Linked DNA regions of Homo sapiens: all the other regions are linked to region 1. Evidence: fine-mapped QTL for protein levels in blood plasma. A gene starts in region 1. Each other region holds a variant in brackets. All regions are shown on one strand. Distances are from middle to middle. Region 1 holds the start of PRKAR2A (protein kinase cAMP-dependent type II regulatory subunit alpha). Region 2 overlaps USP4 (ubiquitin specific peptidase 4). Region 3 overlaps FBXW12 (F-box and WD repeat domain containing 12).

The links. PIP is the posterior inclusion probability: the model's chance that the variant is causal. The UK Biobank Pharma Proteomics Project read protein levels with antibody pairs (Olink). The fine-mapping took linkage between variants from a reference panel, not from the people measured, so its PIPs are less certain.
Region 2: its variant is fine-mapped to the plasma level of the PRKAR2A protein (UK Biobank, PIP 0.97).
Region 3: its variant is fine-mapped to the plasma level of the PRKAR2A protein (UK Biobank, PIP above 0.99).

The regions. Positions count from the first base shown.
Region 1 is chr3:48,844,323-48,854,750 of GRCh38, reverse strand. PRKAR2A (protein kinase cAMP-dependent type II regulatory subunit alpha) reads left to right here and starts at 6,877. Exons shown (of 11, transcript NM_004157.4): 1 at 6,877-7,416. The coding sequence starts at 7,155. PRKAR2A-AS1 (PRKAR2A antisense RNA 1) reads right to left here and starts at 6,814. Exons shown (of 3, transcript NR_109997.1): 1 at 6,726-6,814; 2 at 6,343-6,646; 3 at 2,769-5,764. RefSeq lists a silencer at 6,735-7,064.
Region 2 is chr3:49,327,526-49,336,766 of GRCh38, reverse strand. USP4 (ubiquitin specific peptidase 4) reads left to right here. Exons shown (of 22, transcript NM_003363.4): 2 at 1,171-1,298; 3 at 8,951-9,081. Among named protein-coding and RNA genes, the nearest start is that of USP4, 7.9 kb to the left of the region's middle. The variant A/G (reference allele first, on the strand shown) is at 3,954.
Region 3 is chr3:48,374,259-48,384,686 of GRCh38, reverse strand. It overlaps FBXW12 (F-box and WD repeat domain containing 12), which reads right to left. Exons shown (of 11, transcript NM_207102.2): 5 at 9,215-9,333; 6 at 6,161-6,370; 7 at 5,129-5,287; 8 at 3,775-3,985; 9 at 2,809-2,987; 10 at 2,602-2,732. It also overlaps the pseudogene RN7SL321P. Among named protein-coding and RNA genes, the nearest start is that of FBXW12, 7.3 kb to the right of the region's middle. The variant C/T (reference allele first, on the strand shown) is at 4,719.

The DNA of each region.
Region 1 (10,428 bases):
AGTCCTGAGACTGTTCTGAATTTTAAATTTAAATTTTTTTTTTTTTTTGAGATGGAGTCTCGCTCTGTCACCCAGGCTGGAGTGCAGTGGCATGATCTCAGCTCACTGCAACCTCCACCTCCCGGGTTCAAAAGATTCTCCTACCTCAGCCTCTGGGTCTACAGGCACCTGCCACCACGCTCAGCTAATTTTTGTATTTTTTGTAGAGATGGGGTTTCCTCATGTTGGTCAAGCTGGTGTTGAACTCCTGACCTCAAGTGATCCACCCACCTCAGCCTCCCAAAGTGCTAGGATTACAGGTGTGAGCCACCACACCCGGCTGAGACTATTCAAAAACCTCAGCTTTTGCCTAGAAGCCCCTGTAAATGTATTTGCATTTCAGCCAAATGCCAGCCATTCCCATGGCTTAGGATCACTTTTACAGTCTGTGCCTCTGGATAATTTGCCCTTTGAAAAATTTTCCATTTTAAAATGGAGTATTTTGGTTCTTTGATGTTAGTGATGGTAGATTATTTTAGTCCTTTGGGTGTTCAATAGATGTTAAGTCAAATAGGGAAGCCCCTGGAGGCATATTTGTGATGGGAGCAGAGCAGATGTTGAGTAACTCCCTCCTGGCTGGTGCTTCCTTTTTATGATGCACTTTGAAATGCCACCTGTTCCTGATATATCTCTTCTCTTCCTGACAGGGGTAAGGAGTAGGGGAAAATTGGGGCCTCCCTAGCAATTTCTCTTTCACAGACAGTCACAACTGGGAGCCAGACAGTGATTTTTTTAAACAACCAATTGGTGATAAAAGCCTCACCCAGGCATCAAGAAGCATATAACTGGGCCAAAGGTGAGGGAAGGAGCACAGGTTGTTGCAACAGTGATTGTTAAAAGCACAGTAGCACCATTTCAGCTATAAAGTCATACTATCTCTACCCCACAGTTGTTTCCCTACAGCCTTTTTTTTTTTTTTTGAGACAGAGTCTTGCTCTGTCACCCAGGCTGGAGGCAGTGGAGCGATCTCAGCTCACTGCAACCTCCGCCTCTTGGGTTCAAGTGATTCTCCTGCCTCAGCCTCCCGAGTAGCTGGGACTACAGGTGCACACCACCACGCGTGGCTAATTTTTGTATTTTCAGTACAGACGGGGCCAGGCTGGTCACGAACTCCTGACCTCAGGCGATCCGCCTGCCTTAGCCTCCCAAAGTGCTGGGATTATAGGCATGAGCCACCGTGCCCAGCCTCCTTACAGCCTTTTGAGGCTGGAACCCCTTACATCTTTTGTAACCTCCTTATAAGTTTATTCTCTTATTTCTTTATCCCCTTGTAACTCAATGTTTAATGGGTAGGGATTTTTTTTTTTTTTTTTTTTTGAGATGGAGTCTCCCTCTTTCACCCAGGCCGGAGTGCAGTGGCACGATGCTGGATCTTGGCTCACTGCAACCTCTGCCTTCCAGGTTCAAGTGATTCTCCTGCCTCAGCCTCCCGAGTAGCTGCGATTACAGGTGCATACCACCACGCCCAGCTAATTTTTGTATTTTTAGTAGAGATGGGGTTTCGCCATTTTGGCCAGGCTGGTCCTGAACTCCTGACCTCAAGTCACCCACCCACCTCGGCCTCCCAAAGTGTTGGGATTACAGGTGTGAGCCACTACACCTGGCCTTAATTTTTGTATTTTTTGGTAGAGATGGGGTTTTACCATGTTGGCCAAGCTGGTCTCAAACTCCTGACCTCAGGTGATCTGCCTGCCTTGGCCTCCCAAAGTGCTGCGATTACAGGCATGAGCCACTGCACCAAGCCTCTGAGTAGGGATTTTGACTTCCACTTTCAGATGTGGATGCCAAGGCTCAGACAGGGTAAACTGATCTGCAAAGGTCATTGGCAAATTGATAATAAAGTGGGGATTGTCTGGGTCTCCTGAAGAAAGACTTGTGATGCTATCAGAGGCTTGATCCAGGCTCCAGGAGACCTGTCTGTACCACCTGGTCCAAGCTTAGGTACTTGGCCTGTGAGTCAGATCAGGAGTGGCACACAGAGTCCTGACAGCACTGGGAAGGCCCCAGGGCCAGGTGTCCCTGAGGGGTCCCTTTTCTGCTTTCTCTGCTATGGTAAGCATGCAGACCTGTGATTTTCTAGCCAGCTTCCCTGTGCTTTCTAGGTTCTGTCCTTGCCCTGAGGTGTCTCAGATGCAGACCCTGGGTCCACTGCAGAGACTGACATTTTCTCAGGACATAGTGTCTCAGGCGTGGGGATGGCTCACAGGTACACAAACGTGGCCTGGGAGCTAACTGCTCCCTGGAGCATGGGCACTTGTTAAAACAGATTAGATTTCCTGGGCAAAAGGCAATGGCCTCGCTGGAGGAGCCACAGTAGAGGCTGAAAGACAGCTTGGGTAAGGGCCGAGAAAACATAGCCCACTTCCTCAATCTCTCTTGCCAACTAAAGGCTCATGAACACTTCTAAGGCAACATAGAAGCTGTTGCTTGTAGGAACTAAGTGAGCTGGGAGTACTAAATCCAGGAGGGCCTGGCATGTAGAGGTGGTCAGGTGACCAGCGGATCCCAGGAAATGGGTGGGGGACTGGAATGGCTTAGAAAAGTGGTCCCTTGATCAAGTAAGAGGGAGGTTTTCCTGCTGGACCTGAGTCCTGCAAGTATGCAGAGGGCATAAGGTATTTAAGCTGGAGGATCTGAGCCAAGAGCAGGCCTTCAGAGGAGTTCGGGGAAGTTTAGGCCCCTCTCTTCATCTTGGAGAGACAGACAGAAACGTTTGAATAACAAACCTATCAAGAGCACACAAAATTCATTGTTTCATTGGAAACAGCAATGGTACCCTACCCATTTTCGTTTTCACCAAGACCCGTTGCTTTTGGGCTAAACAACATGTGTCCCACCTGTGCTACTCTGCATCCATAGTTGCAAACATCTCTGCAAATTGGCCCCATTGTGTCCATATCTGTGCCTCTGGTTGGTGATATGGCAGTTTGTGCAAGACGTTGACTGCCTGCTGAGTTGTGAGTAGGATTAGATTTGAGTGTAGCACCCTCAGGGTTCTGGGGCCTCCTCCTGTGTACTTCTCTTCCTTCTAAGAGTCTCTGCTGTTGGCCTTTTCCACCATCAGTTGCTCTTGGCAGCTGTATCTCAGTTACCGGCTGCCTCTGGGTTTAGTTGCCATGGTAACCTCCAGTGGTGCAGCTGGACAGGCTTGAATGCAGGCAGGATAAATGCAGGATAAGGGTAGAAGATGCGGGGTTCAGGCTCCTGGTGTTCTGTCCTGTTACAGGGCCCTCTTCTTTAGCCAGTTCAACTAGATATTCATGAAGACCCTGGGGGCTCTACTTGTTACTGAAGGGTTGACCAGAAGTGGGAGAGATGCACCCCTGCTCTGGGGACCAAGTGCTGGGGGAGAGTGCCAGGTTAAACCTGGAGGCTGGCTGCCCATCCTTGCTCTAAGACTAGTCTATGGAGACCCATGAGGAGCAGCTGTAGGACTCCTGCTTTCTGTGGCTATATGGCAGACACACCTGTGTATGGTAGCTGCACCTGACAGCAATAACTTAAGCATACTCTGAGAATGACCCTGTATGGCAGATGCACCTGAATGTGTTAGGAGTTCCAAGTGAGGACAAGCCAGAGATTCATTACTTACCCATGAGGAATATCTGAGCCCCCATTCTGTCCTGTGGATGTACAGGGGATTTAGCCCCTTTGTTTTGGGTTAAATCAAAGTTGTTAGGGGGAGGGTGTTAAGTGAAAATGCTATATATACTGCATACTTTCTGCAGGTGGGGCAGTTCTCCTATCTAGCCCACCTCCACTGGACTGCTCTGTATGCAAATTCCCCTCAATCAAACCTAAGTCTTGTTTGCTGGCTCTGGATCTCTTTTGGCCTCTCAAACCTGGTGCCATCCCTACTGAAGTTAATGGGGGTCTGGTGGCCAGGTGCGATGGCTCACACCTATAATTCCAGCACTTTGGAAGGCTGAGGCGGGTGGATCGCCTGAGGTCAGGAGTTCGTGACCAGTCTGGCCCTGTCTGTACTAAAAATACAAAAATTAGCCAGGCGTGGTGGTGTGCGCCTGTAGTCCCAGCTACTCGGGAGGCTGAGGCAGGAGAATGGCTTGAACCCAGGAGGTGGAGGTTGCAGTGAGCAGAGATTGCGCCACTGCACTCCAGCCTGAGCGACAGAGCAAGACTCCATCTCAAAAAAGAAAACAAAACAAAATATGGGTCTTTCTTGGCCGGGCGTGGTGACTCATGCTGGTAATCCCAGCATTTTGGGAAGCTGAGGCAGGCGGATCACCTGAGGTCAGGAGTTCAAGACCAGCCTGGCCAATATGGTGAAACCCCATCTGCACTAAAAATACAAAAAATAAGCCGGGCGTGGTGGTGCGCACCTATAATCCCAGCTACTTGGGAGGCTGAGACACGAGAATCGCTTGAACCTGGGAGGTGGAGGTTGCAGTGAGCCGAGATCGCGTCACTGCACTCCAGCCTGGGCAACAGAGTAAGACTGTGTCTCAAAAAAACAAACAGGCCAGGCGTGGTGGCTCACGCCTGTAATCCCAGCACTTTGGGAGGCCAAGGCAGGCGGATCATGAGGTCAGGAAATCCAGACCATCCTGGCTAACATGGTGAAACCCCGTCTCTACTAAAAAATACAAAAAATTAGCTGGGCATGGTGGCGCACGCCTGTAGTCCCAGCTACTCTGGAGGCTGAGGCAGGAGAATGGCATGAACCCGGGAGGTGGAGCTTGCAATGGGCCGAGATCATGCCACTGCACTCCAGCCTGGGCAACAGAGCAAGACTCCATCTCAAAAACAAACCCAAACAAACAAAATGGCCAGGTGCAGTGCCTCACGCCTGTAATCCCAGAACTTTGGGAGGCTAAGGCGGGCAGATCCCTAGGTCAGGAGTTCGAGACCATCCTGGCCAACATGGCAAAACCCCGTCTCTACTGAAAATACAAAAATTAACTGGGCATGGTGGCAGGTGCCTATAATCCCAGCTACACAGGAGGCTGATGCAGGAGAATTGCTTGAACCTGGGAGGTGGAGGTTGCAGTGAGCTGAGATCGTGCCATTGCACTCCACCTTGGGCGACAAAAGGAAGACTCCATCTAAAAGAAAAAAAAAAAGCCAGGTGCGGTGGCTCACGCCTGTAATCCCAGCACTTTGGGAGGCTGAGGCGGGTGGATCACGAGGTCAAGAGATTGAGACCATCCTGGCCAACATGGAGAAACCCCATCTCTACTAAAAATAGAAAAAATTTGCTGGGTGTGGTGGTGCACGCCTGTAGTACCAGCTACTTGGGAGGCTGAGACAGGAGAATCGCTTGAACCTGGGAGGCAGAGCTTGCAGTGAGCAGAGGTCATGCCATTGCACTCCAGCCTGGGCGACAGAGTGAGACTCCTCTCAAAAAAAAATAGGGGCCTGGCAGAACGGTCGCCCTCATTCCTTCCAGATGCCTTTTGAATGCTCTGCTGGATGGGTGGTTGGCTGAGCCGTGGGGCATCTGAGAACAAGTCAGTAGACCTTCTCCAAGAGTATGCAATAAGGACTGAGCAGGAAAAAAGTTGGAGACTGCCTGTCCCCTCACAAAGTTGATGGTCTAACATTCTTCTCAGGGTCAAGAAACTTGTCCAGGGAGACACTGCTGTTTATAATCACAGGCCTGCTTAGCCTAGAACCTGGGCTGGCCTCTTCATCAGTGGGGATGAGGGCTCCTTGCTCCCAGCTGCTCAGCTCCCAGCAGCATTGAGCTCCTGGGTGTGTGCCAAGCCTGTATGGGAGGTGATAGGGAGGATTTTAATTAATACTGAGTAATTACCAGGCGGTGTTTAAGCATCCCAAATGCCCTCAGGTTCCCAAACCTACAGCTACTCTCTTCCTGGCTAGGCCTGTAAGGAGAGGGGGACTCTGCTCTATGCCCAGTGGGCCTTTGGTTAGCACGTAGGCTGTAGACTGGACATCCCAGGAAGGTCTCCACCTTTTTCAATACCCTTCCAGTTTGGTAGGAGGAGGAGGGCAATTTGGGAAATAGTCTGGCCTCTACAGTTCACCTATACCATCTTCCCAGGGGCAAAGGATAACAATGCCTGTGGTCTGCTCAACTTCATCAAGCAGTGTTGACCTAGGGCCCAGTGTAGAATGTGGGGAGAGGAATGGGCAGACCTAGATCTGGGGACCCTGGTGAAAGTGCTCCAGGAGGAACAGGCACAGAGGTCTTTGCTGCTTTTGGCCTTATTTCCCTTTCTCACTGTACACATTTGGCTGAGTGAACTCTTTCAAATTTATTTTTCTGTCTGTGGCTCTCAAATTATGATCTCATTCAAACGCCTACTTCCTACAAGGCCTTACCCGTTTGACATCTCAGAGACCTGACAGACTCCTGAGTTATTCCACCATTCCACCTGGCAGCCAAGGTGGTCTTGACTCCACCAGGCCTTTGCTCTTGTTGTATGTTCAGATGGCTTTCCTCCAGATCTTCCCCTGGGCGGGTCCTGCTCAGGCCTCGGGGCTAGCTTGAATGTCACGCCGGAAAGTGAGCCCTCTCTTGCCCTTCATCACAGCAGAATCACACTGATGTGCTCGTATGCTTCTGCTTCTCGCTGTGTCTCTGGTGCTTAGTAAGTGCTGGCCAAAAAGAGGCTCTTGGCATCAGCTGAAAGAATAATTTAAAGGTCTTCAGGACCAGGCGAGAGGCACTAATCGGTCCCCTTCATGGGTAGACCGTTCATTACCTAATTCCCTGGATTCCCTCCGTGAGCTGGCATCAGGAACACTCCACTGTCTCGACCCCCCGACAGCCCGAGGGGGCGGGTCATCTAGTGGCGCAAGCGCACTGAGGGCCGGTGCTAAGCGGGGACGCGCACGCCCGCGGTGGCGTGCGTCACAACCAGGACGCCTGCCCCGCCCGTCCAGCTCGCCTGCCCGTCGGTCCCCGCGGCGGCGGCGGCTGCCCAGTGACAGCGGCGGCGGTGCCAGGTCGGCCGTGGTAGCGTAGGGTTGCGCGGCCCGGAAACGCAGAGCCGGCCAAAGAGCGGCGCGACGTGAGCCGGGGCCGTGCGCGAAGAGACCTCGCGGGCGCGGAGCGAAAGGCCGGCGTGAGTGAGCGCGGAGACAGTGGCCGCCGGCGGCCCAACCCGTCTATCCCTTCGGCCGCCGCCGGCATGAGCCACATCCAGATCCCGCCGGGGCTCACGGAGCTGCTGCAGGGCTACACGGTGGAGGTGCTGCGACAGCAGCCGCCTGACCTCGTCGAATTCGCAGTGGAGTACTTCACCCGCCTGCGCGAGGCCCGCGCCCCAGCCTCAGTCCTGCCCGCCGCCACCCCACGCCAGAGCCTGGGCCACCCCCCGCCAGAACCCGGCCCGGACCGTGTCGCCGACGCCAAAGGGGACAGCGAGTCGGAGGAGGACGAGGACTTGGAAGGTAGGCTGTGGGCGGGGCCCTGGGGAGTGGTGCAGGAGGTCTCCAGAGGTCTAGAGGGGTGGCAGGGAGCCAGGTGTCGCGCCGCAGCCAAGCCGACCGCAGGCTGGGATTGGGAGCTCTGTAGCCGCGTTTCTAGCGTTTCCCTGAGACACCGGCGTGAGCCCGCGTGCGCCACTTCCAAATTGAGCTCCGCGATCCTGCGAGCCCTAGAGCGCACCGAGTGATTTGTCAGATCCAGCCTTGAAGGAAACGTGCGCGCTGTCGGCCCTGCTAGAGGATCCCTCGCCTTTGCTTAAGACCCTTCACCAGTTTTGGCTTCGAAGACAACAGCGTTCTCATCCAGTGACTTGTGTTTAATTGATAGGACAGTAAGTTTGTTTGGAAATAATAATTTTTTTTGAAAAGTTACTGTGAAAACTTTTAAGCATAGACAAAAGAGGAAAGGTGAGATGAATCCCTATATGCCATCACCTACATTTAACAGTTGCGTTTGTCACAAAGTTTCATCCATACCTTTTTTCTTTCTTTGCCGAAGTGTATTAAAGCAAATCTCTCAGGTCATTTCACCTCTGCTTACTTGAGTTTGTATTTCTTCAAACATGGTCCCTGGGAATATTCCTATTTTTAAAAACTTGGCCAAAACGATTGAATCAAATTTGGTGAGAGTAAATAATTATCTTGCCGGCCGGGGCAGTGGGCCCCTATAGTCTATACCAGCTACTCTGGAGGCTGAGGAGGAAATATCGCTTGAATCCAAGAGTTCGAGACCAGCCTGGGCAAAATAGACACCCTACCTCATTTTTGAAAACGAAAAACCTGGCCGGGCGTGGTGGGTCACGCCTGTAGTCCCAGCACTTTGGGAGGCCGAGGCGGGTGGATCACCTGAGGTCAGGAGTTCGAGACCAGCCTGGCCAACATGGCGAAACCCCGTCTCTACTAAAAATACAAAAATTAGCCGGGCGTGGTGGCGGGCGTCTGTAGTCCCAGCTACTTGGGAGGCTGAGGCAGGGAGAATCGCTTGAACCTGGGAGGCGGAGGTTGCAGTGAGCCAAGATCATGCCACTGCACTCCAGCCTGGGCGACAGAGCGAACTCCGTCTCAAAAAAAAAAAAAAAGAAAAAGGAAAAACCCAGTAACTATATTCTTGTTTAGTGGGTGGGTTGTAGCTTTAAAGGAAAGGATCCCAGCAGAGACTGAGATCAGGAGAGCAGCTTCATTGGCTCTACTTGCTGTGTCAGGATTTATCATTTAGTAATAGTAAACCTTCTCCAAGAGTTTGCAATAAACTCCAAGAGTACGCAATAAGGACCGAGCAGGAAACAAGTTGGAGACTGTCCCTCCCCTCACAGATTTGGTGATCCAAGATCATCACACCTTTTTTTTTTTTTAAAGTCAGGATCTCGCTCTGTCACCCAGGCTGGGGTGTAGTGGCACAATCAGGGCTCACTGCAACCCCAACCTCACAAGCTCAAGGTATCCTCCCACCTGGGCCTCCCAAGTAGCTGGGACTAAGGGCATGTGCCACCATGCCTTACTAATTTTAAGTGTTTTATAGAGACGGGGTCTCCCTGTGTTGCCCAGGCTGGTCTTGAACTCCTGGCCTCAAGTAATGCTCCTGCCTTGGCCTCCCAAAGTGCTAGGATTACAGGCATGAGCTACTGCTCCTGTCCAAAATAACACTTTCTACATCTGATCTACGCAAGAGTGTTAAGAAGCTATTACAGTTTCCTTGGTTGCTTCAACATATGCTTTGTCAATTTAACAGTAGAATTGGCCTACTTTTGAACAACTAAAATTTAACAAAACAATGAAACCATTTGAGAGGCCAAGTTAGGATCTTAGTGTTATTAGATCACACACACACAAAACTAGTTCTGAGTTGTATCTGGTCTGGCCCAGTATTCAAGTCACGGCAGGGAAGGAGTTAATTAACGGTCATTGCTGTGGGAGGTCACAAGCTTCAGTGCACTGGGCAATCTCCCTAAGTGTATTCATGCTAAAGGAGTAACAAGGGCTCTTCTGGGTTTCCCTTGATTTATTGCACATTACATCATGGGTTTTTGGGAAATCAGAAATTATTTTCTAAACTCTGCCACAGGTTTGCTTTGTGGTCTTGGACAAATTCTCAAACCTGTTTGATCTCAGATTTTCTTATCTTTAAGTTGAGGACAGTGACAACAATCTTCCAGGGACAAATTTGTTTTTAAAAGCTTTATTTCAGGTTTGTTTCACTGTCATCTCTGTAAATCACAAAGCAGTAACCTGCTTTGAGACAATTTTTATTTACACAACACTTTAGGATTTTAGAAATTAGCCTCAGATGAGTAAAAGTTTACAAGTTTTTTTTCTTTTTTATTATACTTTAAGTTTTAGGGTACATGTGCACAATGTGCAGGTTAGTTACATATGTATACATGTGCCATGCTGGTGTGCTGCACCCATTAACTCGTCATTTAGCATTAGGTATATCTCCTAATGCTATCCCTCCCCCCACCCCACAACAGTCCCCAGAGTGTGATGTTCCCCTTCCTGTGTCCATGTGTTCTCATTGTTCAATTCCCATCTGTGAGTGAGAACATGCGGTGTTTGGTTTTTTGTCCTTGCGATAGTTTACTGAGAATGATGGTTTCCAATTTCATCCATGTCCCTACAAAGGACATGAACTCATCATTTTTTATGGCTGCATAGTATTCCATGGTGTATATGTGCCACATTTTCTTAATCCAGTCTATCATTGTTGGACATTTGGGTTGGTTCCAAGTCTTTGCTATTGTGAATAGTGCTGCAATAAACATACGTGTGCATGTGCCTTTATAGCAGCATGATTTATAGTCCTTTGGGTATATACCCAGTAATGGGATGGCTGGGTCAAATGGTATTTCTAGTTCTAGATCCCTGAGGAATCGCCACACTGACTTCCACAATGGTTGAACTAGTTTACAGTCCCACCAACAGTGTAAAAGTGTTCCTATTTCTCCACATCCTCTCCAGCACCTGTTGTTTCCAGACTTT
Region 2 (9,241 bases), 480 kb before region 1:
GCAGATTACCTGAGGTAGGGAGTTTGAGACTGTCCTGACCAACATGGAGAAACCCTGTCTCTACTAAAAATACAAAATTAGCCAGGTGTGGTGGCACACACCTGTAATCCCAGCTACGGGAGACTGAGGCAGGAGAATCACTTGAACCCGGGAGGCGGAGGTTGCGGAGAGCCGAGATCACACCATTGCACTCCAGCCTGGGTAACAAGAGCGAAACTCTGTCTCAAAAAAAAAAGAAGTTAATGACTTGTTTATTAGCAAACATGATTTTACCCATGAAAAGACTCCATTTAGACTGAGTGTGGTAGCTCATGCATGTAATCACAGCACTTTGGGAGGCCAAGGCAGGAGGATCACCTGAGATCAGGAGTTCGAGACCAGCCTGGCCAACATGGTGAAACTCCATCTCTACTAAAAATACAAAAAAATTAGCTGGGCCTGGTGATGCATGCCTGTAATCCCAGCTACTTGGGAGGCTGAGGCAGGAGAATTGCTTGAACCCAGGAGGTGGAGGTTGTAGTGAGCCAAGATCATACCACTGCACTCCAGCTTGGGCAACAAGAGCGAAAACTCCGTCTCAAAAAAAAAAAAAAAAAAAAAAGAGGCCAGGTGCAGTGGCTCATGCCTGTAATCCCAGCACTTTGGGAGGCCGAAGTAGGCGGATCACCTGAGGTCAGGAGTTTGAGACCAGCCTGCCCAACATGGTGAAACCCCGTCTCTACTAAAAATACAAAAATTAGCTGGGAGTGGTGACAGGTGCCTGTAATCCCAGTTAGTCAGGAGGCTGAGGCAGGAGAATCGCTTGAACCTGGGAGGCAGAGGTTGCAGTGAGCCAAGATTGTGTCACTATACTCCAGCCTGGGCGACAGAACAAGACTCCGTCTAAAAGAAAAAAAAAGAAAGACTGCATTTAAATAAGCATTTTGAAACCACTTGTTTTCTTTCTTTTATTCACTCTTTGAACAATCATTTCACTTAATGGATGCATACCCTGGGCCAGACTCTCTGTGCCATGTGGGGCCTGGGCCCTGCTCTTGCTCTTGTGACAGTGTTTTTTAGTGGGTATTGCATATGCCCCAAGTGGAAGGACCATAAAAAAGATTAAGGAAGCAGCTGCAGAAATTTATAATCTCAGCTTTTCTGCTACAGTAAATTTCTGTCTCTCTCTAGGTATCTTATTGACAGCCGGTGGTTCAAGCAGTGGAAGAAGTATGTGGGCTTTGACAGCTGGGACATGTACAATGTGGGTGAACATAACCTATTTCCTGGCCCAATAGACAACTCTGGGCTATTTTCAGGTATAGTAAATGTTGCTTTTCTAGCTAAACATTCACCTGGGCAGTGGCCTGATGTTATGTGCATCTGTAACATGGACGTTGTGAACTTTCCTAGTGTGAGGAGATAGAAACAAGTATCCTCATTTTGCATCTATAGCAGAAGTCTTTGCAAACCCTTAATGAGAAGTTAAGCTACTTTTTTCCCTTAAATTAACTGCATCTGATAAGAGTATGCTTCTAACATTTTAACTTTCTCTCTTTGCAAATTAGTTCTGCTAGCTATTTCACATTTTAAGTTAGTATATGGAATGGAAAGAAATAGGATGTCATTTTGAAATTGTATCTAAAATTTAAGAACCAGAATTTTTTGTTACCTTTGCAGTGGAACAAATTGTAAACCTGTGAACTTTCATCAAGAATTCCTGTGATGGCTGTTTTTATCATATAACTAGTGTGAGGAGAGGTTGAAGGTCAGTAGACAGAGTTATGACTGTAGTCAGCTCCCAATGGGAACTGTGGGAAAAGCGACATGTAACACACTAGAGCTTGCTTGCACTTGTACATGCACTGAGATGACAGAGTCAGCTTTTCCCAGGCTTTCTTTTGCCTGACTTCAGACCTCTTTAAAGTCATGATAGAGGTGATCTGTCATGGGTGTCAAAAATCAGGGCAGTGCCAGGAGTGGTGTCTCACGCCTGTAATCTCAGCACTTTGGGAGGCCAAGGCAGGTGGATCACCTGAGGTCAGGAGTTCGAGACCAGCCTGGCCAACATGGTGAAACCCCGTCTCTACCATGTTGGCTAGGCTGGCCTTGAGCTCCTGGGCTCAAGCTATCTTCCTGCCTCAGCCTCCTTAGTCACTGAGACTACAGTGTTCTACCACTCTCAGCTGTTTTTTAAGTTTTTTGGTAGAGACGGGGTCTTGCTATGTTGCCCAGGCTGGTTGAACTCCTGGCCTCAAGCCATCCTCCCACCTTGGCTTCCCAGAGTGTTGGTGTGAGCCACTGTGCCTGGCCTAACTTGGATATTTTTAAAACTGAGCAATGCTTCAGCTCAGACCTTGTTTTAGGAGAGGTCTACATGGTATAAACAATATCATTTACTTTGTTTCCTGAAATAGGTCAAATGGTGGCACTATGCCACGAAGTTGCCCTAAGGAATCATTTCATTATGTTCACATTTTGTTCTTTTTCTCATTTTTATGAAATGGAGAATTCTTAAGGTTTTAAATTCAGGCATACTTTGGCTTATTGTGCTTTGCTTTATTATATGTTGCAGATACTGCATTTTTAGCAAATTTTGTAGGTATTTGGCAACGCTGCCTTGACAATCTGTCAGTTCCATTTTTACAACAGCATGTGCTCACTTCATGTCTCTGTTACCACATTTTGGTAATTCTCAAAATACTTCAAAGTTTTTCATTATTATTTGTTATGGTGATCAGTGATCAGGGAGCTTTCTTTTTTTTTTTGAGACGGAGTTTTGCTCTTGTTGCCCAGGCAGGAGTGCAGTGGCATGATCGTGGCTCATGGCAACCTCCACCTCTTGGGTTCAAGTGATTCTCCTGCCTCAGCCTCCCGAGTAGCTAGGATTACAGGCATGTGCCACCACGCCCGGCTAATTTTGTATTTTTAGTAGAGATGGGGTTTCTCCATGTTGGTCAGGCTGGTCTTGAACTCCCGACCTCAGCCTCCCAAAGTGCTGGGATTACAGGCATGAGCCACCATGCCCAGCCAACAGGGATCTTTCATGTTGCTATTGTAATTGTTTTGGGGCATCATGAAGGGAGCCCATGTAAGACAGTGAACTTAATTGGTAATTATTGTGTGTATTCTCGCTGCTTCACCAACCAGCCATTCCATCTCTCTCTCTCTCCTCAGGCTTTGCTATTGCCTGAGACACAATGACACTGAAATTCGGCCACTTAGTAACCCTAACAACGTCTTCTAAATGTTCAAGTGAAAAGGAGAATTGCATGTCTCTCACTTCAAATCAAAGCTAGAAATGATTTGAGTTTGGTTAAGGAAGCCGAAATAGGTTGTAAGCTAGGCCTCTTGTGCCATATAGCTAGCCAAGTTGTGAATGTAAATGTAAACCTCCTGGACTTAAGTGATCCTTCCACCTCAGCCTCCTGAGTAGCTAGGACTACAGGTGCTTGCCAGCATTCCTGGCTCATTTTTGTATGTGTTTATTTTTTCTTTTTGTAGAGATGGAGTTTTGTCATGTTGCCTGGGAGATGGAGGAACCCAGGAAATGGTGGTTTCAGTGAGCTGAGATTGCGCCACTGCACTCCACTCCAGCTTGGGCGACAGAAGTGAGACTCCATCTCAAAAAAAAAAAAAAAAAGTGCTACTCTAGTGAACACATGAATTATAAGAGGCTGAAACAGCCTTATTATTGCTGATATGGAGAAAGTTTATTCATTTATTTTTTTTTTTGAGACAAGGTGCCATCTTGTCTCAAAAAAAAAAAAGGTAGCTACTGCTACCTCGTGCAGTAGCACAATCACACCTCACTACAACCTTGACCTTCCCAGGCTCAGGTGATCCTCCCATCTCAGCCTCCTGAGTAACTGGAACTACAGGCCCCACCACACTCGACTAATTATTGTATTTTTTGCAGAGATTTTTTGTGGGTTTTGTCATGTTGTTCAGGTTGATCTTGAATTCCTGGGCTC[A/G]AGCAATCCTCCCGCCTTGACGTCCCAGAGTGCTGGGATTACAGGTGTGAGTCACTGTGCCCAGGCTAAACAACAGGTTTTATTTTATTTTATTTTTATTTATTATTATTATTTTTTTGAGACAGAGTCTCACCATGGGGTTTCACCATGTTGGCCAGGCTGGTCTCAAACTCCTGACCTTAAGTGATCCGCCTGCCTCGGCCTCTCAAAGTGCTGGGATTACAAGCATGAGCTACTGTGCCTGGCCTAAACAACAGATTTTAAATGTAGACAAAACACCCTTCTATTGGGAAGATGCCATCTACCTCTTTGCTGCTAGAGGGGAAAAGTCAGTGCCTGGGTTCAGAGCCTTTTTTTTTTTTGAGACAGGGTCTTGCCCTGTCACCCAGGCTGTAGTGTGTGATCACAGCTCACTGCAGCCTTAACCTCCTGGGCTCAAGTGATCCTCCCACCTCAGCCTCCTGAGTAGCTAGGACTACAGTTGCTTGCCACCATGCCTGGCTGATTTTTATATGTTTGTTTGTTTGTTTGTTTTGTAAGACAGAGTCTCGCTCTGTCGTCTAGGCTGAAGTGCAATGGCACAATCTTGGCTCACTGCAACCTCCACCTCCCAGTTTCAAGTGATTCTCCTGCCTCAGCCTCCCAAGTAGCTGGGATTACAGGTACCTGCCACCACACCCAGCTAATTTTTTTTTGTATTTTTAGTAAAGACGGGATTTCAGCACGTTGGCCAGCCTGGTCTCGAACTCCTGACCTCAGGTGGTCCACCCGCCTTGACCTCCCAAAGTGCTGGAATTACAGGTGTGAGCCACTGTGCCCAGCTTTGTATTTTTTTTTTTTTTTTGTAGAGATGGGATTTTGCCGTGTTGCCCGGGCTGGTCTCCAACTCCTGGGCTCAAGTGATCTGTCTGCCTTGACTTCTCAAAGTGCTGGGATTATAGGCATGAGCCACTCTGTCCGGCCAGATTCAGAGCCTTGAAGGACAGGCTGACTCTCTTCTTAAGGGATACTGCAGATGGTGACTTTAGTTTGAAGCTAGTGCTCATTTATCATTCCAAAAATCCCAAGGCCCTCAAGAATTATGCTAAATCTGCTCTGCCTGTGCCCTACACATGCAACAACAAAGCCTGCATGATAGCATATTTATTTACAGCATGGTATACCGAATATTTTTGTTTTTATTTTATTTTTCTGGGACAGAATCTCGCTGTGTCGCCCAGGCTGGAATGCAGTGGTGCAATCTCGGCTTACTGCAACCTCTGCTTCCCGGGTTCAAGTTATTCTCATGGCTCAGCCTCCCAAGTAGCTGAGATTACAGACATGCACCACCAGTTCTGGCTAATTTTTGTACTTTTAGTAGAGATGGGGTTTTGCTATTTTGGCCAGGCTGGTCTCAAACTCCTGGCCTCAAGTGATCCACCCGCCTTGACCTCCCTAAGTGCTGGGATTACAGGCATGAGCCACCACAACAAGTTTACCGATTTTTTTTTTTTTGAGTCGGAGTTTTGCTCTTTTGCCCAGGCTGGAGTGCAATGGTGCGATCTTGGCTCACCACAACCTCTGCCTCCCAGGTTCAAGCGATTCTCCTGCCTCAGCCTCCTGAGTAGCTGGGATTATAGGCGTGCGCCACCACGCCCAGCTAATTTTGTTTTTTTAGTAGAGACGGGGTTTCTCCTTGTTGGTCAGGCTGGTCTCGAACTCTCGACCTCAGGTAACTGCCCACCACGGCCTCCCCAAGTGCTGGGAGTACAGGTGTGAGCCACCACGCCCGGCCTCCCAATATTTTTTTTTTTTTTGAGACGGAGTCTTGCTCTGTCACCCAGACTGGAGTGCAGTGGCGCGATCTCGGCTCACTGCAAGCTCCGCCTCCCGGGTTCACACGATTCTCCTGCCTCAGCCTCCTGAGTAGCTGGGATCACAGGCGCCTGGTGCCTGCCACCACACCCGGCTACTTTTTTTGTATTTTTAGTAGAGACGGGGTTTCACCATGTTGGCCAGGATGGTCTCAATCTCCTGATCTCGTGATCCACCCATCTCGGCCTCTCAAAGTGCTGGGATTACAGGTGGGAGCCACCGCGCCCGGCCTCCGGCCTCCAGCCTCCAGCCTCCCAATATTTTTAGCTCAGGGTTGAGACCTACTGCTCAGAAAAAGCACTGAGCTAATCTTATCAAAATGTTACTGCTGCCAGGTGCAGTGGCTTACGCCTGTTATCCCAGCACTTTGGGAGGCCAAGGTGGGCGGATCACGAGGTCAGGAGATTGAGACCATCCTGGCTAACATGGTGAAACCCTGTCTCTATTAAAAATACAAAAACAAAATTAACCGGGTGTGGTGGCGGGTGCCTGTAGTCCCAGCTCCTCGGGAGGCTGAGGCGGGAGAATAGCATGAACCCGAGAGGTGGAGCTTGCAGTGAGCCGAGATGGCGCCACTGCACTCCAGCCTGGGGGACACAGCGAGACTGTCTCAAAAAAAAAAAAGTTACTGCTCCATTGCAATGTACCTAGTTACCCAAGAGCTCTGATGGAGATGCATGAGGAGATTAATGTTGTTTCATGCCTACTAAAAACATCCGTTCTGCAGCCTGTGAGTCAAGAAGTAATTTCAACTTTTTTTGTTTGTTTGTTTGTTTGTTTGTTTGTTTTGAGACAGAGTCTCACTCTGTTGCCCAGGCTGGAGTGCAGTGGCTCAGTCTTGGCTCCCTGCAACCTCTCCCTCCCAGGTTCAAGCAATTCTCCTGCCTCCTCCTACCAGGTTCAAGTAATTCTCCTGCCTCAGCCTCCTGAGTAGCTGGGATACAGGTGCCCGTCCCTCCACCTGGCTAATTTTTGTATTTTTAGTAGAGACCAGGTTTCACCATGTTGGCCAGGCTGGTCTCAAACTTCTGACCTCAAGTGATCCTCCCGCCTCAGCCTGCCGAAGTGCTGGGATTACAGGCCTGAGCCAGCGTGCCTGATTTGATTTCAACTTTCAAGTCTTATTATTTAAGAAATACATTTTATAAGACTTTATCTGCCATAGATAGTGATTCTCCTGAAGGATCTGGGCAAATTAAATTGAAAACCTTTTGGAAAGGATTTACCATTCTAGATGCCATTAAGAATATTCATGATTCCACCTGGTGCAGTGGCTTATACCTATAATCCCAGGACTTTGGCAGGCTGAAGTAGGTGGATCCTTTGAACCCAGGAATTGGAGACTAGGGTGGGCAACTTGGCAAAACCCCATCCCTATAAAAAATACGAAAATTAGCTAGGCCTGGTGGCATGCACCTGTAGTTCTAGCTACTTGGGAGACTAAGGCAGGAGGATTGCTTGAGTCTGGGAGGTCGAAGCTGCAGTGAGCTGTAATCATGCCACTGCACTTCAGCCTGGGTGATAGAGTAAGGCCTGCCACTCCCACCTGCCCACACACACACACAAAAATATTCATGATTCATGGGAGGTCAAAATCAACATTAATAGGAGTCTGGAAGAAGTTCATTCCAACACTTACGGATGACTTCAACGGGCTCAAGACATCAGTGGGAGAAGTAACAGCAAAAGTGGAAATAGCAAGAGAACTAGAATTAGAAGTGAAGCCTGAAGATGTGACTGAATTGCTTTATTTTTTATTTTTACTTTTATTTTTATTTTTTTTGAGATGGAGTTTCGCTGTGTCACCCAGGCTGGAGTGCAGTGGCGCAATCTTGGCTCACTGCAACCTCCGCCTCCTGGGTTCAAACAATTCTCCTGCCTCAGCCTCCCAAGTAGCTGGGCTACAGGTGTGCACCACCATGCCCAGCTAATTTTTGTGTTTGTAGTAGAGACGGGGTTTCACTACCCTGGCCAGGCTGGTCTTGAACTCCTGACCTCATGATCTGCCCACCTCGGCCTCCGAAAGTGCTGGGATTACAGGTGTGAGCCACTGCGCCTGGCCTATTTTTAATTTTAATTTTTATTTATTTTTATTTCTTTTGAGACAGAGTCTTGCTCTGTCACCCAGGCTGGAGTACAGTGGGGTATCTCGGCTCACTGCAGTCTCCACCTCCTGGGTTCAAGCAATTCTTATGCCTCAGCCTCCCGAGTAGCTGGGACTACAGGCATGCATCACCATGCCCAGCTAATTTTTGTATTTTTACTAGAAATGGGGTTTCACCATGTTGGCCAGGCTGATCTTGAATTCCTGACCTCAAGTGATCTGCCTGCCTCAGCCTCCCAAAGTGCTGGAATTACAGGCATGAGCCAACATGCCCGGCCTGAATTGCTTTAATCTTATGATAAAACTTGAATGGCTGAGGAGTTGCTTCTTATGGGTGAGCAAAGAAAATGGTTTCTTGAGATGGAATCTATGTCTGGTGAAGATGTTATGAGCATTGTTGAAATGACAACAAAGGAACCCTGCCCTGAAAAAGGTGTGTAAACTAGTCGGAGGGATGGTGGGAAACCATAACCACCTCATGTATGATTTATTTATTTTTGAGATGGAGTCTTGCTCTTTCACCAGGCTGGAGTGCAGTGGCGTGATCTTGGCTTACTGCAACCTCTGCCTCCCGGGTTCAAGCAATTCTCCTGCCTCAGCCTCCCGAGTAGCTGGGACTACAGGTGCCCGCTACCACACCCGGCTAATTTTTATATTTTTAGTAGAGACGGGGTTTCACCATGTTGGCCAGGCTGCTCTCAAACTCCTGACCTCATGATCCAACCGCCTCAGCCTCCGAAAGTGCTGATTACAGGTGTGAGCCACCACACCCAGCCTGGAGTTTTTCTTTTTTATCCTCTTCTCTCCCTCCAATTATAGAAGAAATACAAATTCCTCATAAAATCTTCATGGATAAAGAGAAAACATGGATAAAGACAAAAGTCTGCTCTGTATAATGACCAGTGACAGAATTTTGGAATTTCATTCCTGTTTCTTTCTGTAAATAATTTTCTTATTTCTGAAAAGTACATGGAAATCATGTAAAACCATCATTTCTGGGGTAAAGAGCAGTGACTTATGTGCTCTTTTCCTTTTTTAGATCCTGAGAGTCAGACCTTGAAAGAACACTTAATTGATGAATTGGACTATGTATTGGTCCCTACCGAGGCGTGGAATAAACTACTAAACTGGTACGGCTGTGTAGAAGGCCAGCAACCCATCGTCAGAAAAGTGAGTTATGTGAATTGTCCCACCTGCTGGTCACTGTCTGCAGGTGCTTTCTGTTGGACACTGACTAGTGTTTGCTAGGAAAATGAACATACCTCAGTGGTTGAATAGTGGTGCTTGAGGCCTTGTTTCTGGATCTCTTTTTTTTTTGAGATGGAGTCTT
Region 3 (10,428 bases), 470 kb after region 1:
GGACTAGAAGAGAACATTTTCAACCCAGTAAGGGGCATCTACAAAAACATACAGTGAATATAATAATAATGGTGAAAGACCAAACACTTTTCATCCAATGGAAGGATGTCGGCTCTCCACTCCAGTGCCACACAGGAGGTTATAGCCAATGCAAAAAGGGAAGAACAACAAGGCATACATTTGAAAAGAAAGAAAACTGTTTGACAGACGACATGATTGTCTACATAGAGAAAGCACAAAGTATCTACCAATCTATGAATAAAAGCTATTAGAATGAATGAGTTTAGCAAGGTTGCGGGATACAAGGTCAATATACAAAAGTCAGTCGTATTTCTATATACTAGTAATGAAAAATGGAAATTGAAATAAGACAGTACTCTTTATAATAGCACCAAAACCACGAAATATTTAGGTATAAATTTTACAAATATGTGCAAAATATTTATCCTAAAAACTACAAAAACACTGATAAAATAAAGATGGCCTAAAACAGTAAGAGACATTCAGGTTCATGTACTGAAAGAGCCAAAATAGTAAAGATGCCAATTCCCCTAATTAATCTCTACATCTAAACAAATTCCAATATAAATCTCAGAATTTTTGTAAAAATTTACAAACCAATTCTAAAATTCACTTGGAAAACAAGGGAACCAGAATAGTCTGAATAATTTTGTAAAAGAACAAGTTAGAGGACTCACATTATCTGATTTCAAAGTCTCTATAAAGTTACATTTTCAATGTAGTGTGTTATTTGATAAGAGATACATATATAGATGATTGGAACAAAAGAGAAAGTCTCAAAACTAACCCATGTAAATATGGTTGATTTTGGACAAAGGTACACAGGCAATTCAACGGAGTAAGGAGTTTTTTCAACAAATGGTGCTGAATCACTGAATATTCATATACAAAAAAATACATCTTGATCTTTATCTTTCCCTTACAAAATTTAACTCAAAATACATCAGAGACCTAAATGTAAAACCCTAAACTGTAAAACTTTTAGAGGAAATCTTAGAACATCTCTGTGATCTTGGGTTAGGCAAAGATTTCATAGATACAATCCCCCAAGCCCAGTCATTTTAGAAGAAAAATTGTACTTCAAAGTTAACCCTTGCTCTTTGAAAGACACTGTGAAGAGAATAGAAAGACAAACCAGAGTGGGAGAAAATATTTGCAAACCCTTATCTGATAAAAGACGTGTATTCCAAATATATAAAGGACTATCAAAACTCGATATTAAGAAACTCAATATTAACAACCCAATTAAAAAATGGTCAAAAGATTTGAAAAAATGTGTTAAAGAAGATAATGTGGATGGCAAATAAATTGCTCAATGTTATTGGGAAAAGGCACAATAAATATCACAATGAGGTATCACTATACATCCATTCAAATGTAAGAAAGAAAAAAAATCCAGGGGAAGTATTTGAAATTATTGAAAGGAAATAAGTATTTATGATTGGTGTAGGCTAAAATTTATTAGATATGATATACAGAGCAAAAACCATGAAAGTCTGCTAAGCATGCTTATAGATATTTAAAGTATTTTTGCCTCAAAACACTGGAAATCATTATCTGAACATAGACATTTTCCTATTCTTGTAAAAAAGTTAATAACAGCTGCCTGATACTTCCTTGTGTGGATATACGATGGTAATTTAAACAATCTCTTATGTTTGGACACTTAGGGAGCTTCCAGCTCTTGACTATCACAAATGCTGTAATGAACAGCCAATGTACTTGAATGATTGGAGGTATAGCTTCACAGTAAATTCTTTTTAGTGGTGTTGGCAGTGCAAAGGATATATGTATTTTCTTAGATGTTGCCAAAAAAGCACTATAAGCAGTATAATGACTAGCAATAATCTGGAAGAAAATGTGTGCAAAGCCTTAAGAGACAAGACTTCTACGTGTACTACGTAAAATCTCAAGAAAAACAATTTAAAGGCAAGCAAACCAGGGGCAAAAATCAGCAAAATGGAGGGAAAGGCAGCTCACTGAAGCAGCAAGCAAGTGGCTAATGAACTCACAAAAGGTACAACTCAGCAAGAAAACACAGGGTATTGGGACATAATCTATCCACTGCTCATGGGAATATAAATTGAGAGCCACTTTGGGAAGACTTAACATCTATTGCAAGTCCCATGACTTCAAGAACTAGCGATTCTCTTTTCAGGCATGAGTTTATTGATATCTATCCTCAGAGAACCTTAAAAAAAAAAACCCCTGTTTTCCCTTCATTCATCTTGATGTAGAAATTAGAAGTTTTCGGCAGGGTGCGGTGGCTCACGCCTGTAATCCAGCACTTTGGGAGGCCAAGGCGGGCGGATCACGAGACCAGGAGATCGAGACCATCCTGGCCAACATGGGGAAACCCAGTCTCTACTAAAAATACAAAAATTAGCCAGGTGTGGTGGCACATGCCTGTAATCCCAGCTACTTGGGAGGCTGAAGCAGGAGAATTGCTAGAACCCGGGAGTCGGAGGTTGCAGTGAGTTGAGATCACGCCACTGCACTACAGCCTGGTGACATAGGGAGACTCCGTCTCAAAAAAAAAAAGTTGTTTAGGGGATGTTTACATCACAAAACAGAGCTTACCTGTCTGTTGTGTGATCATGCCACGTGTTTTCCAGGTGACAGCAGCTCCTGAGGTATGGATGGCGGCCTCCTTCTTCCCACATGTACACGTGCACAGAGTTCTCGGATGTGGTGAGCACATAGCAAGGATCCTTCCAAGGATAGCCAGAGTGAGTGGCCAAGGAGTCAAAGTCAGATCAAAAAGCAGTGGAGGAGAATCATACATACCACCCAGAAGTTGTTGATGGCTGCCTGATGGTCCTCAAATCGTTGCAGCAGGAAGCCAGTGATGCTGAAGAGTAACAAGTATGGTCCACTGGTAAAGACAATCATATATCCATCACTGGCTCCCATCCAGATAGGGCACTTCAGATGAGCTGCCACCTGGAAACTTGCGATCTCATATGCTGTTTTCATGTAAAACGCACATATATATACACACACACATAAGGAAGTAAAGATCAGGTCATTGAATAATAATATCCTCACACTGAATAAAAAAGCATAGTCCCCACTTCCACAGACTTCATTCCGGGGAAGAAAATGAAGGGTAGTCCAGTGGCCTGACAAATACATATCACTGACTGTGGTAACAGGTGCTAGGACACAGGAACAGAGGTTTGTGGACAATAAACAATCCCCTGGGCATTGGAACCCAGGCCCTAAAATATGATGGAAATCTATATGTGTTCGCCCAAGAGAGCAGGGTGGGGGTAGAGATCAGCATGGGTATTAGAGTCGAACTGGGATGGGTTCACCCCCAGCTAAAGAAATCCCCTGCTCCTGGCCGGGTGCGATGGCTCACTCCTGTAATCCCAGCACTTTGGGAGGCCGAGGCAGGCGGATCATGAGGTCAGGAGATTGAGACCATCCTGGCTAACAGGGTGAAACCCTGTCTCTACTAAAAATACAAAAAATTAGCCGGGTATGGTGGCGGGCACCTGTAGTCCCAGCTACTCGGGAGGCTGAGGCGGGAGAATGTCGTGAACCCAGGAGGTGGAGCTTGCAGTGAGCCGAGATTGTGCCGCTGCACTCCAGCCTGGGCAACAGAGCAAGACTCCGTCTCAAAAAAAAAAAAAAAAAACTAGAAATCCCCTGCTCACTTTATACAGGCTGACCCATTTATTAGAGCTAAACACGAATGACTGTGTGATGAGGAAGAGAAACAAGCGTTTCTAATGTGGCACAGCCTACCTTGGATGACTGTTTGGCCTCCAGTCTTCTTGGTTGTTAGATCAAAGGTGATAAATTCTGTCTTTTTTCCAGTGCTACTTTGGGACATCAGTGTTATCCTGTTTTTCACCTTTGGGGTCCAGCAGGCGCTGGCACATAATTTATGTGGGAGAAAGGTAGACAGAGGAACACTGCCTTCTGATGGTCTCAGTAAGGACTCTGTGAGGAATACCTAAAGAGAGCATCGCATGCATGGTCAGGGGCAGGGAACTTATAGCCTCTCAGTACAGGAGTGACTCCAGAAGAGCCTTCTTAGAAATTCTCATCTTGTGGCCAAAGCTTTGTTCAATATCTCAGGAGTGATGAGTGGTCACTGCTTATCACTCCAGCATAAAAGGAACTCACTGTCTTCCTATTCTTCCTGTCCCATTCACAGAACAATGTCCCTGAAGCATGCTAAGGTGTTATGAAACCATCTTGCCATGTTGAACCCTTGGTCAAGTTGAGGTTGGCTAAGCAGATTTTCCCTTCTTGGGGAACAAGTCAAGGGCTGTGTGGCTTTTACTACCTGCCTTCTGAACTCCTCCCTCTTTGGTGCCCAGTCCACCAGTGCCCCACTACAAATGGCCTGCTCAAAGGCCAAAGCCTTCCTCAGAGTGATATTCAGAGGCTGTTGCATATTCAGTTACTTTTGGACTTCTCTACACTTTGCAGCCAACATAGATAAAAGTAAAGAAGGCAAAAGAGAACAAGGACAAAGATATTTTTGTAAAAAAAAAAAAAAATTTTTTTTTTTTTTTAAGAGGTAGGGTCTCGCCATGTTGCCCAGGCTGGAGTGCAGTGACTATTCACAGGTGCATTCCCACTACTGATCAGTATGGGAGTTTTGACCTTTTCTGTTTCTGACCTGGGCCAGTTGGCCCCTCCTTAGGCAACCTGGTGGTCCCCTGCTCCCAGGAGGTGAA[C/T]GTATTGATGCCAGACTTGGTGTGGACACCCTATCAGCATAGCACACTATGGCCTGGAACTCCTGGGCTCACGTGATCCTCCCGCCTCAGCCTTCTGAGTAAGTGGGACTATAGGTGCATGCCACCATGCCCAGCAATCCCTATTTCTTGATACCTGTCTCACCCTCTTCCATCTCTTTGGCAAATTCGGGCTTCATGAACGAGTTTTTGTTAAACATTTGCCACAGCAACTGGATGTTGTTACTTCAAAGAGCATTGTTTCCTGACCATCACAATGGATTCCCCTTGTGATGTGGTCTTAGAGAGGAAGGAGCAGTGTGCCTGGTCCTCACTGAGCTCTGCAGTTTCTCTGCATGCTTCCTAACTTGACATTCCTATCCTGAAATTGAAATACACAGAACAGCACCTACCTGTGGCAAGGTACGACTGTATGTCCCACATGCAAATACCCATTTCTTGTCAGGAGAGCAGTGTAGAAGTACAATACCATATTGAAATGCAGTAACTTTAGAAACATCTCTTAACCCAGGCAGTGTAAATGTGTAGATGTCACCTGCAGCATCGCCAACCTGAAACCAAAGCATCCCCACCATATCAATAGGAAGATATGTGAAATCCTGAAGTACAGAGGAGGCAGCACTATGAGCTGCAAGATATGCCACTGTTTCTTCAATCACATAATGGAGATCAAAACCTCTGACCAGTCTAGCTTGAGACACTGTTGGGATAATCCCATGGAATAAAACTTTCCAAGCCCCAAAGCATTCTTCTCAAGGACAGTTATTCATTAGCACATCAACACTATGCTTTTTCTCAATGTCACCCCAAAGCCATCTCTTCTCCCTCAACTGTCCCCAACCAAGTTCATGGACTGGACAATAACACCACTTGAAAGAAAAGGCACATATAAAGTAATTCAGGAAGTTTTTGGCTTTTTGTCTTTAGAAGAATTGCTGGGGAAATGTACTTGAGGCAAGTCAAGGGGCAAGATAGTGTGGAGGTTTGTATAACATTCATTGATATACTGTGATTGACTCGCAGGGTATGTGGAAGGGATGACAAGAGAAATAGGCCAGGCGCTGTGGCTTATGCCTGTAATCCCAGCACTTTGGGGGGCTGAGGTGGGCAGATCACGAGGTCAGGAGTTCAAGACCAGCCTGGTCAGTTTCTACTAAAAATACAAAAAATTAGCCAGGCATGGTGGTGTGTGCCTGTAGTCTCAGCGACTCAGGAGGCTGAGGCAGGAGAATTGCTTGAACCCAGCAGGCAGAGGTTGCAGTGAGCCAAGATTGCACCACTGCACTCCAGCCTGAGCAACAGAGTGAGACTCTGTCTCCAAAAAAAAAAAAAAAAAAGGGATAGGACAGTAATGTGACACGGATGCCTGACAAGACAACAGGCATTTGATTTTTTGGTCCCCTCTAAATTCAGGGCTCACTTACCATCAGGAATGGGCCATCCTTTGTAAGATAGGCTTCCATGCAATAACAGGGCTGTGGCATGGGGAGAACAGCCAGAGCGTCCCTGTCCTGACAGTTCCACACTTTGATAGTTTTTTTCCGATCCATAGTGATGGCGAGATGCATCTGAGGGAGGGTTACCAGATTTGAGAAATGGAACTCCTGGACTGGGCTTGACCAGATCATGGTACCCTAGAAAACGAGAGTAACACGACCTGTGTTCAAGGAACCCTTACACCTACTGTGCTTTCATTCTGCCCATGTTTATTTGGAAGCCTCTTCCAAATCAGATCTTCTTGCTTCTGGGCAGAGGATATGAAAGTTCTCCACATCTCAATATTTTGGAGGAGTGAACATGAAAACAGGAACTACACATTATGCTCCGAGACAAGAACTTGGTACATAACAGGCGCAAAGAATGATCAGACTTCATAGGTTCAAATCACCTCTGCCTCCTACTCACAGTGCAGCCTTCAGCAAGTCACTTTCTATCATGCCTTCTAATGAGGCTGTCATTACCTTTCACATCTCATGAAACATACTTAGAATTCTGCCTAGGACACAGTAGGAACCCAAAATGTATTAACTATCATTAAAATTGTTATTCAACCTTGTACATTACATACAAGATAGAATAGTTGTCTTTCTAGATGATTCTTTAGCCTTTAAAAAAATTGTAAAGTATATCATATAAGAAAAGAGCACGAAGTTTAATAAATTATCACAAGTGATTACCAATGTACCACTTCTAAGCCCTCCTGAAGTCCCCTTTGCATGTGCTCTATTTAACAACTCCCCCATGGCTCTCCGCACCCAAATGTAATCATTATTTTGATTTTTCACACTATAACAAGTTGCCTATGCAGTAATATCTAAGGCCATGTAACCAAGCATCCCAAAATTTAGTGGCTTAAAACAGGCTTTTGCTAACTCTGTTTCTTTTGATCAGAAATTCAGGGGTAGCTTGACTGGGTAGTTCTGGCTGTAGGTCTCTCATGAGGGTGAAGTCAAGTTTCACTTCCAAGATGGCCTCTCATATAGCTGTGTAAGTTGGTGTTGGCTACTGGCAGGGGTCCTCAGTCCCTCACCACACAGATCTTTCTGGAGGGCTGCTTGAGAGCTCTCATAACACTGTGGCTGGATCTCCAAGAGCTGATGACCCATGAGTGAAGAATTGTCTTCTGTGACATAGCTTCAGAAATTATACACCATAATTTCCACAATATCCTATTGGTTGCACAGGTCAGCCCTATTGACTGTGGCAGTGGACTACACAAGATTGATCGTGATTATCATGGGGCAAAAATATTTGGGCCATCTCAGAGATTGGCAGCTGTAGTCTGCCCCACAGCCTCCAGTGATTCAGTTTCCCCCTACATGAAAATATATCCACCATCTCCCAATGCTCTCAAATGTCTCATACCATTGTAGTATCATTGCAGAATCTAGGCTCTCATTGTTTCTAGGTCCAGGTATAGATGAAGCTCTTTAGATTCAATTTATCTTGACGTGAAAATCTTCAAACTAAATATACAAGTTATCTGTCCCTCACTATCCCCAAAGTACAAGTGTGGGGTAAGCGCAGGATAACATAGTCACTGTTATTCAGAAAAGGTGAAAATGGAAAAATAGGAATCACTGCTACAAGAAATTTTGAAATCCAATAGAAAACATGCTGGCAATTTGTCAATTAGGACTCAAGGCCCAAGAAAGATCTTTAATGACTCTTGGTTCTACTCTCTAGGCTCTTGATTCTGTCTGGGTCATCCTTCGCTTTCTCTATGCGGTGGCCCAATTTTTTAGCTAAATTGTTTTTGGTAGTCTGCTTCCTGCCTGTAAAAGTTTTGAAATCCAAAAGGCCTCTTTTCCTTTTGTGTGTTTTGGCCCCTTTAAATCCAAGCTGACAGTGTTTCTCTCAGTGTAATTCTCTTCAACAAAAACTTTATGGGTCTCCTAAGAACCTCACTGCAGTTTATACCATTAGACAAAAGCCACACTCAGTTTTGAGATAAATCCTTTGCACGCCTTGGAGATCATCTGAGCTAGAGACCACTTTCTGAAAAAGCCAATATAACAAATGCCAATCATTGACAAAGAGGCAATAGAACAGGTAATAAAGATGCAGAAAGCCCAAAAATTATTTCATAAATGCATTCCATGTTATTGGTAGAAAATAAGACCTTATACAAATTTATATATAGAAACACATATTAAAAAGTAAATTCTCAGCCAAGTGCAGTGGCTCATGCTTGTAATCCCAGCACTTTGGGAGGCTGAGGCTGGCAGATCACTTGAGGCCAGAAGTTCAAGAACAGCCTGGCCAACATGGCGAAACCCCGTCTCTACTAAAAATACAAAAATTAGCTGGGCATCGTGGCGCGCGCCTGTAATCTCAGCTACTCAGGAGGCTGAGGCACGAGAATCGCTTGAACTCGGGAGGCGGAGGTTGCAGTGAGCTGAGATCGCGCCACTACACTCCAGCCTGGGCAACACAGTGAGACTGTCTCAAAAAAAAAAAAAAAAAAAAAAAAAAAGGCCGGGCGCAGTGGCTCACGCCTGTAATCTCAGCACTTTGGAAGCCCAAGGTAGGCGGATCACAAGGTCAGGAGATCGAGACCATCCTGGCTAACATGGTGAAACCCTGTCTGTACTAAAAATACAAAAAAATTAGCCAGGCGTGGTGGCGGGCGCCTGTAGTCCCAGCTACTTGGGAAGCTGAAGCAGGAGAATGGCGTGAACCCTGGAGGCGGAGCTTGCAGTGAGCCGAGATCCTGCCACTGCACTCCAGCCTGGGGAACAGAGCGAGACTCAGTCTCAAAAAACAAACAAACAAAAATAACAACAACAACAAAAGTGAATTCTATGTGTGTCTATGGTCCAAATGAAAAGGTCACAAATTACATGATAGAAAACCTGATTTGACACTTTGTTTTTGTTACCACTTCCGAATATTTTCCTCTCAGCACTTCCGTTTCATATATAGAACAGGATGGATGCAAATATGCAGTACTTTTGCCACATATTGGCCAGACTCACCTCTTGCACATCCCAGGCACAAAGCTCTTGCTTTGGAGATACACTACAAATGATTGATTTCTCCTGTTCATCCACTGTAAGTCTATTTCCTGAGAGATAAGCCAACTCCGTCTCAAATGCTAGAAGGAAACATAGAAGACTTGGCCACCAGATAGTTAAGGGATGATCCAAACCAAAAGAAGATAATTTAAAATATTTCTGTACCCTCTTAGGAAGGTTTGGGTAACAATATGGAGAAGATAGAAATTGGGCTCCAGAGTCATCCAAACACAGGTTCCCACGGCAGACTGGCCATTTGGGAGATGTTGGCCAACTTGCTTTTCCTTTTTATCCTCAGTTTCCATAGATATAAAAGGCATATTAAAATCTCTCCATCAGAGAACTTTTCTGAGTTTTAAAAGAGTTATCAAGTCCAGGCACAGTGGTTCACGCCTGTAATCCCAGCACTTTGGGAAGCTGAGGTAGGTGGATCACTTGAGGCCAGGAGTTCTAGACCGGCCTGGCCAACATGCTAAACCTGTCTCTACTAAAAATACAAAAATTAGCATGTTGGCAGGTGCCTGTAATCCCAACTACTTGGGAGGCTGAGGCATGAGAATTGCTTGAACCCAGGAGGCGGAGGTTGCAGTAAGCCAAGATCATGCTGCTGCACTCCAGCCTCGGAGACAAAATGAGACTCTGTTTTTAAAAAAAAAAAAAAAAAAAAAAGTGTTATCAGGATTAGGCCAGGTACAGTGGCTCACGCCTGTGAGGCCGAGGTGGGAGGATCGCTTGAGTTCAGGAGTTCAAGACCAGCCTGGGTAACAAAGTGAGACCTAATCTCTACAAAAAAATTTAAAAAATATGGTCGGGTATGGTGGCTTATGCCCGGAATCCCAGCAATTTGGGAGGCCAAGGCAGGTGGATCACTTGAGGTCAGGAGTTCAAGACCAGCCTGGCTAATATGGTGAAACCCCATCTGTACTAAAAACACAAAAATTAGTTGGGCATGGTGGTAAATGCCTGTAATCCCAGCTACTCAGGGGGCTAAGGCAGGAGAATCACTCGAACCCAGGAGACAGAGGCTGCAGTGAGCCGAGATCGTGCCATTGCACTCCAGCCTAGATGACAGAGCAAGACTCAACCTCAAAAAAAAAAAAAAAATCAACTGGTTGTGGTGGTGTACCCCTGTAGTCCCAGTTACACAGGAGGCTGAGGCAGGAAGATCTCTTGAG